Homo sapiens: one gene and its partners. The protein of the gene in region 4 interacts with the protein of the main gene of each other region in a pairwise test. Each region holds a gene or a part of one and is shown on either strand. Other genes may lie near its edges. The genes, in order: CCDC136, FSD2, FMR1 and ZNF777.

Region 1 (3,400 bases), about 21 Mb from region 4:
GCACAGGTGCATGTTGGGGCCTCCTGGAGCTCTGGGGATAACAGGCCCCACCAGGAGAACCCTTCACCAGCAGTTCTTCCTCTCCCTCTGATTGGGCCGGGCTGGGTCTGAGGTAGTGGAAGGCTGTGGCTGAACTCTTTGGGTTTCACCCGTAGTGCCTTAAGACTTCTGGGGGGTGACAGGGGAGAAACAGTCATAGAGAGGGGCCCCGTCACTAAAGCAGTTGTGGACCAGGGAGTAAAGGGAATACCTAAAGTCAAGAAGAAAAGTGGAGGCTTGAAGATGAGTAACAGGAAAGCTGGGGAGGGAGCAGGAGGAAGGACAGAAAAGGAAATGGAGAGAAGTGCCACCAACAAATCCTCCAGTTGCCACCCTGTGCATTAAGCTACATTCCGTTCACAGGAATGTGAGAAGAGAGGGGAGTGGAGGGGGAGGCAGGGAAAGCATGAGAGAGGAGCCAATGCAGGACTAGAGAGAATACCTTATGGGTTCCAGAAGGCAGGTGGAACCCCAGGCTTCTACCTTAGGCCGTAAGACCACATTCTGCCTCCTGAATTTGGTATCCTGTTGACAGTGTACATTACATGTGTGGGAGCTGACAGGAAAGTGGCCAGAATATATCAGTCTTGATTTCCTGAGAACACACATCTCTGGCTAGTAGAAACTTTTCACTAATACCTCATTCTCTCCAGAAAACCTAGCTGGGGAAGCCAATTACCATGGAATCTGGCCCACAAAATAGATAAATAGATAACTAATAAAATTTCCCGGCATTCTGTTCTGACTTTTCCGGAGACTGGAAGTCCAGAAGCAGAGAACTGTTCAGTAGAAAGAGCAGAATACAGTAGGGGTTCGGTTCCATTTCACCAAGCTTGATGGACCAGCTTAGGTTGCCCTCCTACCAATGCCCCTGGGAGGATCATGAGGATCAGAGCTCTTCAGAGCTCCTCTCTCTCCCAACAGAAGAGGGATTCCTTATTTTGCCATCTTGGGTAGCAACAGTAGTGAGAACTTGGCTCCGGAGTTAAACCAAGACAAAGAGAGTCCAGGCCAGCCTTGCAAATATCAGCTCATCAGAAGTGGTCAGGCTAGCCATCACACAGAGGATGAGCGGGGATAAAGAAGTAGTGAGGCAGCTTTGACAGCAGCAACCAAGCTGGGCTTATCCAAGTTTTTCCCAGCCAAGGATTGAAACAAACCATGTCTCTGGCAAGCATTCCAACCTCCTATGCATTACGAAGACATGCTCAGAGATGTCAGAGGCTTTGCAGTAGCCCAAGGAAAAGTCAGAACTAAAACTCAGACCTGAGCATCACCTATTATAAAATGGCACAAGCAAGAAGCAAGCAGCTGGGAGAAAAGGGAAAGAGGAGAGGCCAGGGCAACCTGCACCCTCCCTCTATCCCTCAGAAGGAGAGGAAGCAATACCAGTACCTGCATTAGGACGACGTCTCAGCCCACCAGCACCAGAGCAAAGCCGAGATGACCACCAGGCCTACAAGAGGCAAGGAGAAGATGGGGGGATTGGGGGTAGGGGATGACTGCAACACACCAAAATGAGAAAGAAGCACGAGGAGAGACCAGGAGATGTGAGACATAAACGCATGGATCCAACAGATAATGAAGATGAGAAAACAAAGGGAAAAGAGAAAGGAATCAAGAGGTTAAAAAACAGGTAAGCTAGAGCAGTTGCATGTCTTTTCTGCTGCCTGGGCCTTGGTTCTTTCCACCGGCAGTCTGCAGGAATTGCAAAATTGAATGGGTTAAGCAGCAGCTAGGTCCAAGTCAGGCGGTGAGTCCAGTTTTCTTTCTGTCTCGTCACATACCTCTCATATCCTGTCAAGCAGGAGGTATCTGCATCTAGACCTTTCTTGTGACTTTTCCTAGGTCACTCTAGGAAGAGCCAGTCTTCTACCAGGTCACCTGTCCCTTTGTTCTAGCCTGCTTTCCATTAAGTTTCTTAGTATTTTGGGCTCTGGTCCCTTAGATCCCCTAGGAATCTAATGATATCATTGTAAGACAACATGCACCGAAACAAACTGACAATGGAGAAGGGCTAGTTCTTTCACTGCAACAATCTTCCAGAGAGAAACCGATTTTGCAAGGTGGTAATACACATGCCCTAGAGCTGCCTGCAAAAGACGCAGGACCCACGGGGCAAAGGGATCTCTCCATATATAGAAACATAGAATATATTTGAAGTAGAAAAATCAGGTCTAGCTTTAGAAATGTGGCACCGAAGGTAAAGACATCTGTGAGGCTCTGAACCAGCACGTGGTGGAATATGATGAGCTCAAGGAAACATGATAGTGGGAGGGGCTGCAGTGGTTCCGACTTTCCACATCTTAGGTAATGGTCCCCTGGCACAAGGTAAGCAGAGCACTGCACACTGGATCCTTAGCCAGTGCTGAAGACCAAATTGCTGGAAATTCCAGATATCCTCAGAGTTGACTGGATAATCCCACCACAAGAGGCTTTTTTTCTTTACCTCTGTTTAGAACAGAAAGAACCTGTAATGTAAGCTGAGGACTTACACAGGAAATACTCTAACTCTGTAGGGACTCTGAGCCCTGAGTTAAGTCCAGGGCAAGAATTCAGTTGCTACATACCTGCAGAGACGTACCAGTTATTAAAATATGGAAGTACTTCTATATTGTTGGTAAGTTACCTCTGGCATTCTGGCATATATATCCCAGGATACCTCCACCCCAACCTCTCAATGATCTAGCAACTGAAGGGTTAAGGCTAGGGATGGTCTCCTTGGACTAGTCTATGCTCCTACTGTACAGATGTGAAATATTTTCACTATCACTCTTGATCACTTCCAGGCCCCACCTTCATGTCCTGTGATATACAGAATCCAGGGGGCAACATGAGCCTACAAAGAAGAGATTATCCCCTGACACACCCCTAACAGCAACAACAAAGGTTAAACCTAACAGGGCACCATAGGAAAACTGGACTGAGTGACTTGCCCAGACCGACAGAAATGGCCTGAAGTAGACTTCACACTGTCAATGTCCTTCCTGCAGTGCCAAAAGAGGGATGAGGGAACACTCCCGACATAAGGAAGGTAACAAAGGCTACTACGTAAATGAAAGGACTCCAGAGACCCCACGCTGGTTCCCAGAAAAGGTGGTCATTGTGAGGTGGTTCCACAGCAAACGGGGCTGAGCCCATGATTTCGTGCAGACAGACTGCTCTCATCTCCCACTTCTGCATCTCCACCTCCCCGAAGGGTTGTGCCTTAGAGCGCGAGGCCTCCACTCCTGGAGATATCCATCCTTGGCAGGGCCACCCATTAACTCGGAGTTATCTGAGCCCAAGACCCCACTTCCCACTTGATCTAGGCTTTGGCTCTGGTTACCTTTTTGCTCTCGGAAAGTCTGAGGGGGTTATT
Region 2 (4,338 bases), on a different chromosome or scaffold from region 4:
TCTGCTGACTGCGCGCACCATGGTCCTTCCTCAGGGGTGTCCCTGCCCAGGATAGCAGCATAGCTTATACAGCATATGTTGCTTTGTTCAGGCAGAAGTGGTACATCTGCACATCGTGCATTCTGAGGGCTCCATTACTGGCAAGTCCCAACTCTCCTGGGCACCAGGGATCCCCCACCCCATGCCATAGCTCTATACTCCCCAAGCAGCCCCACCTTCCCTAGCGGTAACCCTCTGTTCCTTCTGGCCGCGCTCAGGGTCTTCCATGTGAGACTCACCCTAGGCCCTGGCTCAGACTGTCCTGCCTGCTGAGAGCTCCCACTCTTCCCTATCTCACCACTGCTTCTTAAACCCCATACTCATCCAACATGGCCCTCCATGAAGTCCACTGCATTGCTACTATCCATGAATGAGAGCATGACATCCACCCCCTCCAGCACCAAACCAGAGACCAGAAGCTCATCCTTGACACCCCCAATCTAATTAATAACTAATTCATGCTGATTCTGACTCTACCTCTTGAATCTCTAAGTAATATCCCTTTTCCTGTCCCCTCTCCCTGCTCCCCAAGATCACTGCCCTCTGGATTCAGAGAGTCCTGTGTTTGCATTGTTTCTGCCACATCCTGGAAGTATGACTTCAGGAAAATCATCTCTCTAGGCCTAACTTTAATGGACTATAAAACAGCTCTATTAACAGTGTCTACCTCATAAGGTTGGCATTTAGATGAAATAACATAATGTACTTTATGCATAGTACATAGCTTAAAGTAAGTCCTCAGTAAGTGTTAGCTGCTGTTATTGTTGTTGTTCTTACTATCATTATCATGATTCCTACCTTAGTATCTCCCACCTGGGCTAGAAGCCTTCTACCTAGTCACTCATGGAGAGTGACCACAGCAGTGTGGAATCATCCATGGCTACTGTGGGAATATTTGTCCCTTGAAAACAGCCGATGATGAAAGAAGGCACCAAGCAGAACAGCCTCATAACCACGCACAGACATCAGCTATGAGATCATTCCTCTCCCAGGGGGCCCAGGCAGAGATATGGTATTCTAGGGATGGAGGTCCCTTGGAGAGCATCTAATTCAATTTCCTGATTTTATTCAGCAGGTCATGGATGTTTAAAAAAAATTCCTGATTTTAGGATGGCAAAACTGAGATCTTGTGAGGATAAAGGACTTGCTTATAGCCAATTTTCTTTTACAAAAATGTATCTGGGCTACTCTGTATTTAGCCCTGTGCTTGAATCCAAGCTTTTCACCTGACACACAACCAGTCAGGTGAAGAGCTTGGATTCAAACCCAGGTTTCCATTAAATCACACCATCTACAGACAGAGGAGCAGTTCACTAAAATAATGCTTACATTCCCATGTGCTACCCAAAGGGAAATAGCCAGGATTCTGTATGACCAATAAATCATCATGAGAAATTATTTCAACCAGAAGCTGGAATGTGAAACACCAAGTTGAACTGTCAGAAGACTGGAAAACACTTAGTGCAAATACAGATAAGAACACATGCTTTCAAGCTGGCACTTGCCCTTCGAACACACAACACAAAGTGGTCTCAACACAAACTGGCTCAGTGTCAAAGTAGGAATTTTGCAACACACCCTACAGTTAACAGTCACTTTTCCCCTCAACACCTAGACTCTTTCTTAACAAAATCAGGATTTGGGGAGAAAGGAAAGTTGACAATAAACTGTCATTTTATAAATGGTGAAACTAAAGCTTAGAGAAGTAAAGCAATTAGTCATAGTCCATTATGAATGTCTTTGCTGGATACCCTTTCCTCTATGCCAAGGGAAGCAGTTAAAAAAAATAAAAAAGATGTTTGTCTAAGGCTTATATGGGAGGTGTATCCCTGTGCATTACTTAGAAAAGTCCCCCAATAATTTTTTTTTTTTTTTTTTTTTAGAGACAGGTTCTTGCTATGTTGCCCAGACTGGTCTTGAACTCCTGGGCTCATGCAATCTGCCACCTCACTTGGCTTGTTTATTAACCTTTTATGGATCATGGGCATATCTACTGAATCTACTGAAACCTGTGAATTCTCTTCCCAGAAGTGATTCCATAAGGGCAGGAACATAACTTTGCCTATAATTTTAGCTCTTCCATGCAGCCCTTGGCAATTCCTGAGCCACAGCAGTGAAAGAAAGCTTGCCTTAAAGTGTTACAGTGATATGAAATGATTCAAATCAGCTTTGCAGACACTGCCCGAACCTGAAAACTTTCTATAGGAGGAGGCTGTATGCATAACAAGTGAAAAATAATTACGATGCTGTTTTTTAGTATTTGAATCAATGCATGAAGTTATTATTTTTCAGCATGTACACACAGATTAAATAAAATGTATTTACAACACAATAGTATAGCCAGATGATATTCAACATCTATATTTCCAAACTGTTCTACCAAATGGTTCTAACTAATGGGTCCCAGCACTACAGATATCCTAAAGACACATTATAAGAATCACCAGCCCCTGTCTGCCTTCATCAGAGCCTCTCACATCCTGTCCCAACATCATGTTCAGTTAATGCGAATTCTTGCTTTAAGAAGGCACAGAAAACATTTACACTATTTATTGTAATTTAAACATCTGCAATTTACCATGATATCTCTTCCCACCTACAGGAAAGATATTGCATTAATATTGCAGCATTGAGTTTCTAATAATACAATTTGCATTGGAAGAATATGACTACCCCAAAACTTGCCTGCTAAGCGTCCATAAATGCTTCCTTTAACTCAGAGGACCTGGAGTTCTGCTAGAAAATTGAATCTGTGTTCAGCAGGCTTTCCTTCCTAGTGACCTCTGCATGCCCCACAGGCTACCCCTGCCTATTTTACACCAGAGTTCTGCAAGTGGGGCACCAAAGCTGGATGGTAACATGAGCTGGCTGCAGCCACAAATAGCAACAGGCCTGCCATGAGTGAAGGTCCAAATATAGACCTGCTGTGGCTGAGTTGCCACTTCTTACTACTCAAGTGTCACCAGGAGAGGTCACATGCCGTGCTCTGAGTTACTTTCTGTGCTGTGAGGGGTTTTAGACTTGTGGCTCTACCATGGGTCTCAGATGGCTGGTCATGTGGAGAGGGCTGGGGACTGTCACGGCAAGACCAGGAAGAAGATTCCTTTTTTTTTTTTTTAAGTGAATGAGTTTCTAAAATTATATGCAAAATTATGTCTGTGTCCTTATAGAATCACTTCCGGGAAGAGAACTCACAGGTTTCAATAGATTCTCAGAGGTGCTCATGAACCATACAAGGTTAAAAAACATTTTGGGGGCACTTTTCTAATCAAAGCACAGGACACACTTCCCATATAAGCCTTAAGCAAACATTATTATTTTTTTTTTTTACTTGCCATGGTATGGCATAGAAATGGGACTATCCAGCCAATACATTCCTTATGGACTATGATTGACTATTTCTCTAAGCTTTAGTTTAATAATTTATAAAATGACAATTTAGTGTTAATGTTCTTTTCTTCCAAAATTCTGACTCTGTTAAGAAGTTGAAAGAGTCTAGGTGTTGAGGAAAAAAGTGAGTGTTAACTGTGGGTGTGTTGCAAAATTCCTACTTTGATGCTGAGCCCACAGACCAGCATAACAGTATAATCTCTCTCTCCTCTCTCTCTCTCACATGCACGCACGCACACACACACACACACACACACAGTGTAATAGTCAGAGTTGTCCAGAGAAACAGAACCAATAGAATGTATACATATATGGAAACAGATTTATCATAAGGAATTGACTCATGTAATTATGAAGACCAAAAAGTCCCAAGATCTGCAGTTAGTAAGCGGAAGATCCAGGAGAGCCAATGGTGTGGTTCTAGTCCAAAGGCCAGCAGGCTCAAGACCCTGGAGAGCCAATGTTTCCATTTGAGTTGGAAGGCAGGAAAAAAACCCATATTCCCACTTGAAGGCAGTTAGGCAGGAAGAATTCCCTCTTATTCAAGCTTTTGTTCTATTCAGACCTTCAATCGATTGGATGAGGCCCACTCACATGAGGGAGGGCAACCAGTTTTACTCAGTCTACTAACTCAAAGGTTAATCTCATCCAGAAACACCATCACACACACACACCCAGAATAATGTCTGACTAAACACCTGGTGACCCAATCAAGTTGACACATTAAAATTAACCATCATACATATATATACATATGCTATAGACAGTTTATATTCCCCTAAAATTCCCATGTTGAAACCAAATCCCCAATGTGATGGTATTTGGAAATGTGGCCTTTGGGAGGTGATTAGGTCATGAAGGCAAGCCCTCATGAATAAAATTAGTGCCATTACATTGGGGGTCCCAGAG
Region 3 (3,569 bases), on a different chromosome or scaffold from region 4:
ACGTTAAATTAACTTGTGAGCTTAAAGATAGTTTTTGTTTTTAGTTAAATTTTACAGTGATACCAAACGTTTTATGTGTTTATGAATAAAATAGAACTTCAAATGAAGGTCAGTTTTTGAAGATCATTTTATTCATTAAGCACATCTATATTGCCACCTTGTATGTGCTATACCCTAGAGATAAACATAGCTAAAACACTAAACATGAGAAAAAATTCTCCACAGATTTCAACATCTCGAAAAATAGACAAGTATACTGGAAATTACAATGTGGTAGTGAGTGCAAAGCTGGACGTACATTTTAGGTAGAATTACTGAAAACTAAGAAAATTGTTCCAGAACCATATATCAGCCATATATTGTAACCTACCTTTCTCTCCTTAAAATCTTAGAATACCAATAGTCAATGATTAAATATAACCTCAAATCTATCTATCTATCTATATATATATATATACGCACACACAAATATACTAAACTTTCTTTAACAATCATATGCTGCAAACAACACTAAAAAGTCCAGTTACTAGAGTTGAATTAAGTTCTCAATCTCACAGTACTTGTAGAAAAAATATATAAAGTCCAGAGGTTTAGATCTTTTAAATCTGATGACACAATTGTTAGTAATCTACACAAAGACAGACAAAATAGCTAATTATCAAGAATTCTTTAATCAGCATGCTGTCTGTAACTTTATAAAATTAACCTTTTAATAGGTACAGAAAAGGAAGGTTTTTGTTTTGTTTTGGACAATTAGAAGAATAGGACAAAGCATAAAGAAACCCAAAGGCTTTATATCTTAATTTATTTTAAAAGGGCTTGGGGAGATTTAAGCTTCTTACTCAAATTTATTCTGTATGTTTCTCCCCTTCAGTGGTTTCTCCCTGCCTGCAGGACCATAGCCAAACTCCTTCTCCCGCTGTAAAAGGCTCTACAGGAGCTGTCCTCCCCAGCCCCACCACTTCTTCAACTTTATCTTTCATATCCTTAGAATTTGTGACCCAACAATGCTAAACTACTTGTGCCATACTCTGTAGTTTCTGGGCCTCTCTCCATTCCTTCTTTCCTATTGTCCTTCCCCTCTTTTTACATAGCTATCTCTTACTGGTCTTCCAGATTTCAGTTCAGATGTCAACTTCAACGGGAGAACTGAGAAGTCTAGGTTAAATTCCTGTCCTCTGCATTCTCATAGCATCCTATGCTTATCCCTACAATAAACTTACCCCACTCTATTATTATAGCCCATTTTCTCACTAACAGTAAGTTTTCTGAGGGTGGTGTCAGGTTTTACTTCATTTACGGATATACTGCAGAGTGTCTAGTATGAACTCAGTGAGTACTTATCAAATAGATCATTGCCTAAGAGGTTCCTATCCCAGCCTTAGGGAAAAGGTATGTGTGTGGGTGATGGTGGTAGGTTGATAAGACAAAGGAAAACATACTGAAGAAGGTGAGGTTCCTACTGACCCCTTAAAGGATAAGGAAGTACTAGCTAAACAAAAGAGAGTGGAGGATGGAGAGGCATTCCACTAAGCCTACGGGGCAGCAGGCATAAAGGTTTAGACAGTGAGAAACAGCTGGGTTGTGGCAGAAATAATAAATCCTTTGTCAACAAAGAAGCCAAGACAATTCAATGGGGAAAGTATAGTGTTTTCAAAAAATGAAGCTGGGACAAGTGGACACCCACATGCAAAAAGAATACGTTTCAACCTTTACCTCATACTGCATACAAAAAAAAATCAATGAATATGCATCAAAGACCTAAATATAAGAGCTAAAATTATAAAACTCTTGGGAGAAAACACAGTAGTAAATCCTCATGACGCTGAATGTTTGATATCCATATTGGATAGTGAGACAATAACTAGTTCGGATTAAGACCATTCTCTAACTTCGGTGTCCTCAGTAAATGGCATAGTTTCTGGTATATAGAACATGCCCGATACATGTTTTTAAAAACAAATGGTTCAATGCAGATGTCTTTGTAAACAAATATGTCTTCAAAGGCCTATGATATAAAAAGATTATTTTAAAAAATGAAACTTCCCAAAATATCAAATTAAAGCATATGGAGTGAAGCATTAATTAGCTGCTCTTAAGAAAAACTATGGAAGCTGAGACAGGGCCCTGGAAAACACTGATACAGAAGCAACTTAAACAGAGATACCAAGCTTCTTCAATAATGCTTAAATAAAAGTAAAGCTACGCTAAAAGAAAGCTTCCTTGTAAGATCAAGGTGGACTATAATGGCATCCATATGTTGTGCTATACCCAAGGTGGCTAAATAATTATTTTTAAGTTAAGCATGGGTATATACCCTTATAGTTAGTTACTGGTTCAAAAGGGGAGAAATCAACATTTTCTTATCATTTTGATCTTGCTTATTTTTACTCAGCTATATTTAAATGACCAATATTTTCTACAGCATATTTTGAGAACTCTAGCTTAATACTGCCAATGATATTTTAGAATTATTAGATTTCATAAGGGTGCATGCCCCAGTGCTTCAAGGGATTGTTTGCCTCACTATTACTTCAACAGAGAGGCCTAATTTTGAGTTAGGTTGCAGGAACTGGTCACTCTTAGGCTCTTATTTCTATAGGTCGTAAAAATTATGGAGAATGGGAAAGAGGACTCTCCTGGCCCCGATTTCTCCCTTGTCTTTACAGGATGGCTAATAACAAATTAACAGTTTGCTTTTTGGGGGTGCTATTAGATTATTAACTAAAACTAAGACACCTATTAGGAAGTAACTGACCCCTTATTTACAAAGAAGGGCCACTGCTTCTGTGTTCATCCTTGTTTAAGGTTTCATAATGTTTATACATCTTGGCAGTAATTAACATTAGTTCCTTACTGTATATTACATGCTAAAAATGTTGTCCTTTAATCAGCTATTAGAACCTTGTTACAGCTAGGTAAAGAAATGTTCTAAGTAAATCAAGTATCTACCCAAGACTACTGCCCTTGTCTAAAACTATGCCATCTACCATAGTAGCCACGGGTCATGTGCGACTACTTACATTAAAATTAAATAAAATTAAAATCAGTCTCCAATTCACTCTTGCAACATGTCAAGTGCTCAATAGCTACATATGGCTTAAGGGCTACTGTAGTAGACAGACCCGATTTAAAACATTTACAAATGTTGGAGACTGTTTTCAGACTCATCATAAAAGCACTATAATATCAGCCTTATTACTACATTGCTATATTTTGTTTTTTTCTCTTTGCCTAAAAGTTATTGCCCAGTTGAATCATACTTATCTACATTTGCTTATTTCCTAAAATCAAATATTCTCTCAAAGGAGGAAGATCTGCAAGTGCTGTAGCTATTCAAAAAAAAAAAAAAAAAAAAAAAAAGCTTTTGCAGGCTCTGAATGCATTTCCGGATGATTTCCGGATGTAGTGTCAGAGTGTCAGAAATGGTTTGAGTAATCATCAGAGCCCAACAGGGCCACTGCCTTTGAGTTAATGAGGCTTATCTGTAAATGGATGTTTGCATGACTTTTTCAAAATCAGTCATTTTAAGTGAATACAGAAGGTATATAATACCTTTGGTTGCTGCT
Region 4 (3,569 bases):
GCTCCCCGCGCTCCATCTGTGACATGAGGTCTGGTTTGGAAATTGCATAGTCTAGGCAGAAGAAAGGGAAAAAAATATGCTCTGGGATGAGGTTGCACTGGATGTTGTTAAGGTATCATCTGTGGGCACGTGATTCCAGGAGCAGCTCCTCGACTGGAGACCACAATGGAAAACCGCCAAGTCTCCCCTTCTTTTCCCAAGAGCCCACTGTGGGTGTGGGGGTGTGGGTGTGTGTGTGTGGCGGGGGGTAGAGGGATCGTGTTGCTCAGAGGTAGTCAAAACCTGCCCAGGTTTTCATGATAAAGGCAGAAGATATTTGAAATTTTGTAAGGTAAAAAACTAATCCTGGCCGGGTGCAGTGGCTCACACCTGTAATCCCAGCACATTGGGAGGCTGAGGCAGACGCATCACCTGAGGTCAGGAGTTCGGGACCAGCCTGGTCAACATGGTGAAACCCCATCTCTACTAAAAATGCAAAAAATTAGCCAGGCGTGGTGGCGGATGCCTGTAATCCCAGCTACTCGGGAGGCTGAGGCAGGAGAATCACTTGAACCTGGGAGGCAGAGGTTGCAGTGAGCCAAGATCACACACTGCACTCCAGCCTGGGCAACAAGAGTGAAACTCCGTCTCAAAAAAAGAAAAAAACAAAAAACTAATCCTGATAAAAATCTAAAAGCCATAAAATATCGATAGATTTTCTTACATAAAATAAGTCTGCAGTTCTTTGGAAATAAAGTTAAAAGATGAAGAAACTTGGAGGAAATATTATACATATATATACATGTTTGACATATGGCAAAGGGTTAATATCCATAGTTATACATAAAGAACTTCTATAACTAGTAAAATTGCAAAGCTATAAATAGGTAATTCATAGAAGAAATATGAATGGCCAATAAATATATAAAAAGATGCACAAGTTCACTGGGCACAGTGGCTCACGCCTGTAATCCCAGCACTTTGGGAGGCCGAGGCGGGCGGATCACAAGGTCAGGAGATCGAGACCATCCTGGCTAACATGGTGAAACCCCGTCTCTACTAAAAATACAAAAAATTAGCTGGGCACGGTGGTGGGCACCTGTAGTCCCAGCTACTCGGGAGGCTGAGGCAGGAGAATAGTGTGAACCCGGGAGGCGGAGCGTGCAGTGAGCCGAGATCGCGCCACTGCACTCTAGCCTGGGCAACAGAGCGAGACTCCGTCTCAAAAACAAACAAACAAACAAACAAACAAAAAAAGATGCACAAGTTCACTAATCATCAAAGAATACATATTTAAATAAATGAAGTAGGCTGGGCGTGTGGCTCACGCCTGTAATCCCAGCACTTTGGGAGGCCGAGGTGGCTGGATCACAAGGTCAGGAAATCAAGACCATCCTGGCTGACACGGTAAAACCCTGTCTCTACTAAAAATACAAAAAAAAATTAGCCAGGAGCAGTGGAAGGTGCCTGTAGTCCCAGCTACTCGGGAGGCTGAGGTAGGAGAATGGCATGAACCTGGGAGGCGGAGCTTGCAGTGAGCCCAGATCGTGCCACTGCACTCCAGCCTGGGCAACAGAGCGAGACTCTGTCTCAAAAAAAAAAAAAAAAAGTAAATAAATAAATAAATAAGGTATCATTTTTCACCTATAAAAAAGGCTAATATTTAAAATAGAAGAACATCAGCTCAGGCCAGGGTATGAAGTGGCATTTTCACACACCCTTGCAGAAATATCAACTGGCTCAGCCTTCTGGAGGGCACCAGGCAGTAGCCATAAAACTATAAATGTGCATCCTGTTTACTTGGCAATCCCACTTCTTAGTATCTGTCCTACTGTAACACACAGAAGTGCACAAATACACAGAAATGTTTATCATAACACTTTGTAACAGTCAACCTACTCTTCAGCAACAGCAGACAGGTCAAAAGCCCTAATGGTTCACGTGGAACACTGCACTGTCTTTCCAAGGAGTCCTACGTGTGCTGACATGGAACACTCTCTATCCCCCTACATTAGGTAAAATAAGTAAACGGGCCCCTCTGTGCAAACCCCAAACTGCATGTGCCTCAGTGCATGTATCATGCTTATATCTGCACATGCAAAAAAAGATGAGAGAGAACACAGGCCAAAGTGTTCATGGTGGTTACCTCTGGGGAGTGGTACTGGTGAATGGGTGGTGGTTGCTCTTAATTATATAAATCATTTAAATTGTTGAATTTTCACAATTAAAAAACACAATTAAAAAAAGAAAAAAGAATTTTAAAAGGAAGGGAATGTATCCTATGGAAAGGTATGTATAAAATTATCAATTCTAGCTGGAATCAAAGTTTCTATGTGACAACACATTTAAATGTTTAAGATAACGTTTTTTTGTATATACCCAAAAAGTTCTCCATATCAGAGAAACAGATATATATACACACACACATATATATATGTAAGTAAAGTATATTTTTCCAGGTTTTCATCGTTAAATATTCTTAATTAAAATCACAAGAATCTACAGACTTCGGGGTAAGGCAGATCTCCATGAAATAAGCATTTAACCTCCCTGATCACAGCCTCAGTGTTCAGGCACCTGAATCATCGAACAGGAGTGTGAACACCTGTCTTAGCCTCCGCAACATCTTGGCTGTGCAGGTCCAAGGAGATGATACTTGTACAGCACCTCAAATGTGGCTGGTACACAGGAGACACTCAGCACACTTTCCTTTCATTCTTTTTTCCTTCCTTAATAATAGTTTGCTGGACAAACTAATTTATTTAAAAAGGGGTCCCCATGGGGAAAAATATGATGACGGAGAGACCACTGATGTCTAGGTCTTTCTCCTCCTCCTTGCCCCAGCAGCTTCTCTGAGAGTGGGGTCTCAATTTACAAGCCATTCTGGCCTGGGCCGCACTGATGTGTGTGGGTATATGAGGGCGTTTGCTTTAATTTGTTGTGATCTCTACAACTCTGTTCTCCTTGCTTGCAACTATTGGCTCTGCTGGGGTTCAGAACTCCCTAAGTTTATGAATGCACTTTGAGCTGGCGTCCAGGCAGCCCCCAGCGAGCGAAGGCTTCTCCTTACCCATGGAAACCAGGGACTCGTAGTTGCCCCTCATCACGTTCTTGTAGAGCTCCTTCTGCCACTCAGACAGGTTTCCCCACTCCTGCTCCGAGAAGTGCACAGCAACATCATCAAATGTGACAGGGACCTGAAACCACACAATAACTCGGCTCAGACCCGCTGGAAGGCAGTGACAGGCCCACGGCTGGCCAATCCCAAGGCCCAAACTCCTGGCTCTGGGCCTTCACCTAGGACTTTTCTAGAAGTCTGGCCACTGTCCTGGCCCCAAAGAGTGAGGGGCCTGTCTTGTCGGATCCTTTTCCTCCCCTTCAGGATATAATTCTTGCAGCTCTAAAGCATGGTCTGTGGACCAGCAGCAATGGTGCTACCAGGTAACTTGCTCAGACCCCACCTTAGACCTACTAAATAGCTTCTGCATTCAGTAAGATCCCGGGGAGATCCATGTGCACAGTAACATTTGAGACATACCGGGCTAGAGAACAGAGTCTGTTTTCTCCCTACATATGGCTGTGAAAGGGGG

The links.
Region 1: the proteins of ZNF777 (region 4) and CCDC136 interact in a two-hybrid assay, tested with the Homo sapiens proteins (one large-scale study listed by BioGRID).
Region 2: the proteins of ZNF777 (region 4) and FSD2 interact in binary tests that used the Homo sapiens proteins (3 or more experiments, as listed by UniProt).
Region 3: the proteins of ZNF777 (region 4) and FMR1 interact in a two-hybrid assay, tested with the Homo sapiens proteins (one large-scale study listed by IntAct).

Annotation. Positions count from the first base shown.
Region 1 is NC_000007.14:128,815,899-128,819,298, reverse strand, and holds part of CCDC136 (coiled-coil domain-containing protein 136), read right to left. Parts: coding exon 3,368-3,400; intron 1,542-3,367; coding exon 1,440-1,541; 3' UTR 1,435-1,439; intron 169-1,434; coding exon of another isoform or gene 1-168. UniProt on the Homo sapiens protein: May play a role in acrosome formation in spermatogenesis and in fertilization.
Region 2 is NC_000015.10:82,803,242-82,807,579, forward strand, and holds the start of FSD2 (fibronectin type III and SPRY domain-containing protein 2), read right to left. Parts: upstream 2,829-4,338; 5' UTR 2,725-2,828; intron 1-2,724.
Region 3 is NC_000023.11:147,918,350-147,921,918, reverse strand, and holds part of FMR1 (fragile X messenger ribonucleoprotein 1), read right to left. Parts: intron 1-3,569.
Region 4 is NC_000007.14:149,451,062-149,454,630, forward strand, and holds part of ZNF777 (zinc finger protein 777), read right to left. Parts: intron 3,177-3,569; coding exon 3,050-3,176; intron 52-3,049; coding exon 1-51. UniProt on the Homo sapiens protein: May be involved in transcriptional repression. Inhibits cell proliferation through CDKN1A/p21 induction by down-regulation of NIBAN1/FAM129A at low cell density.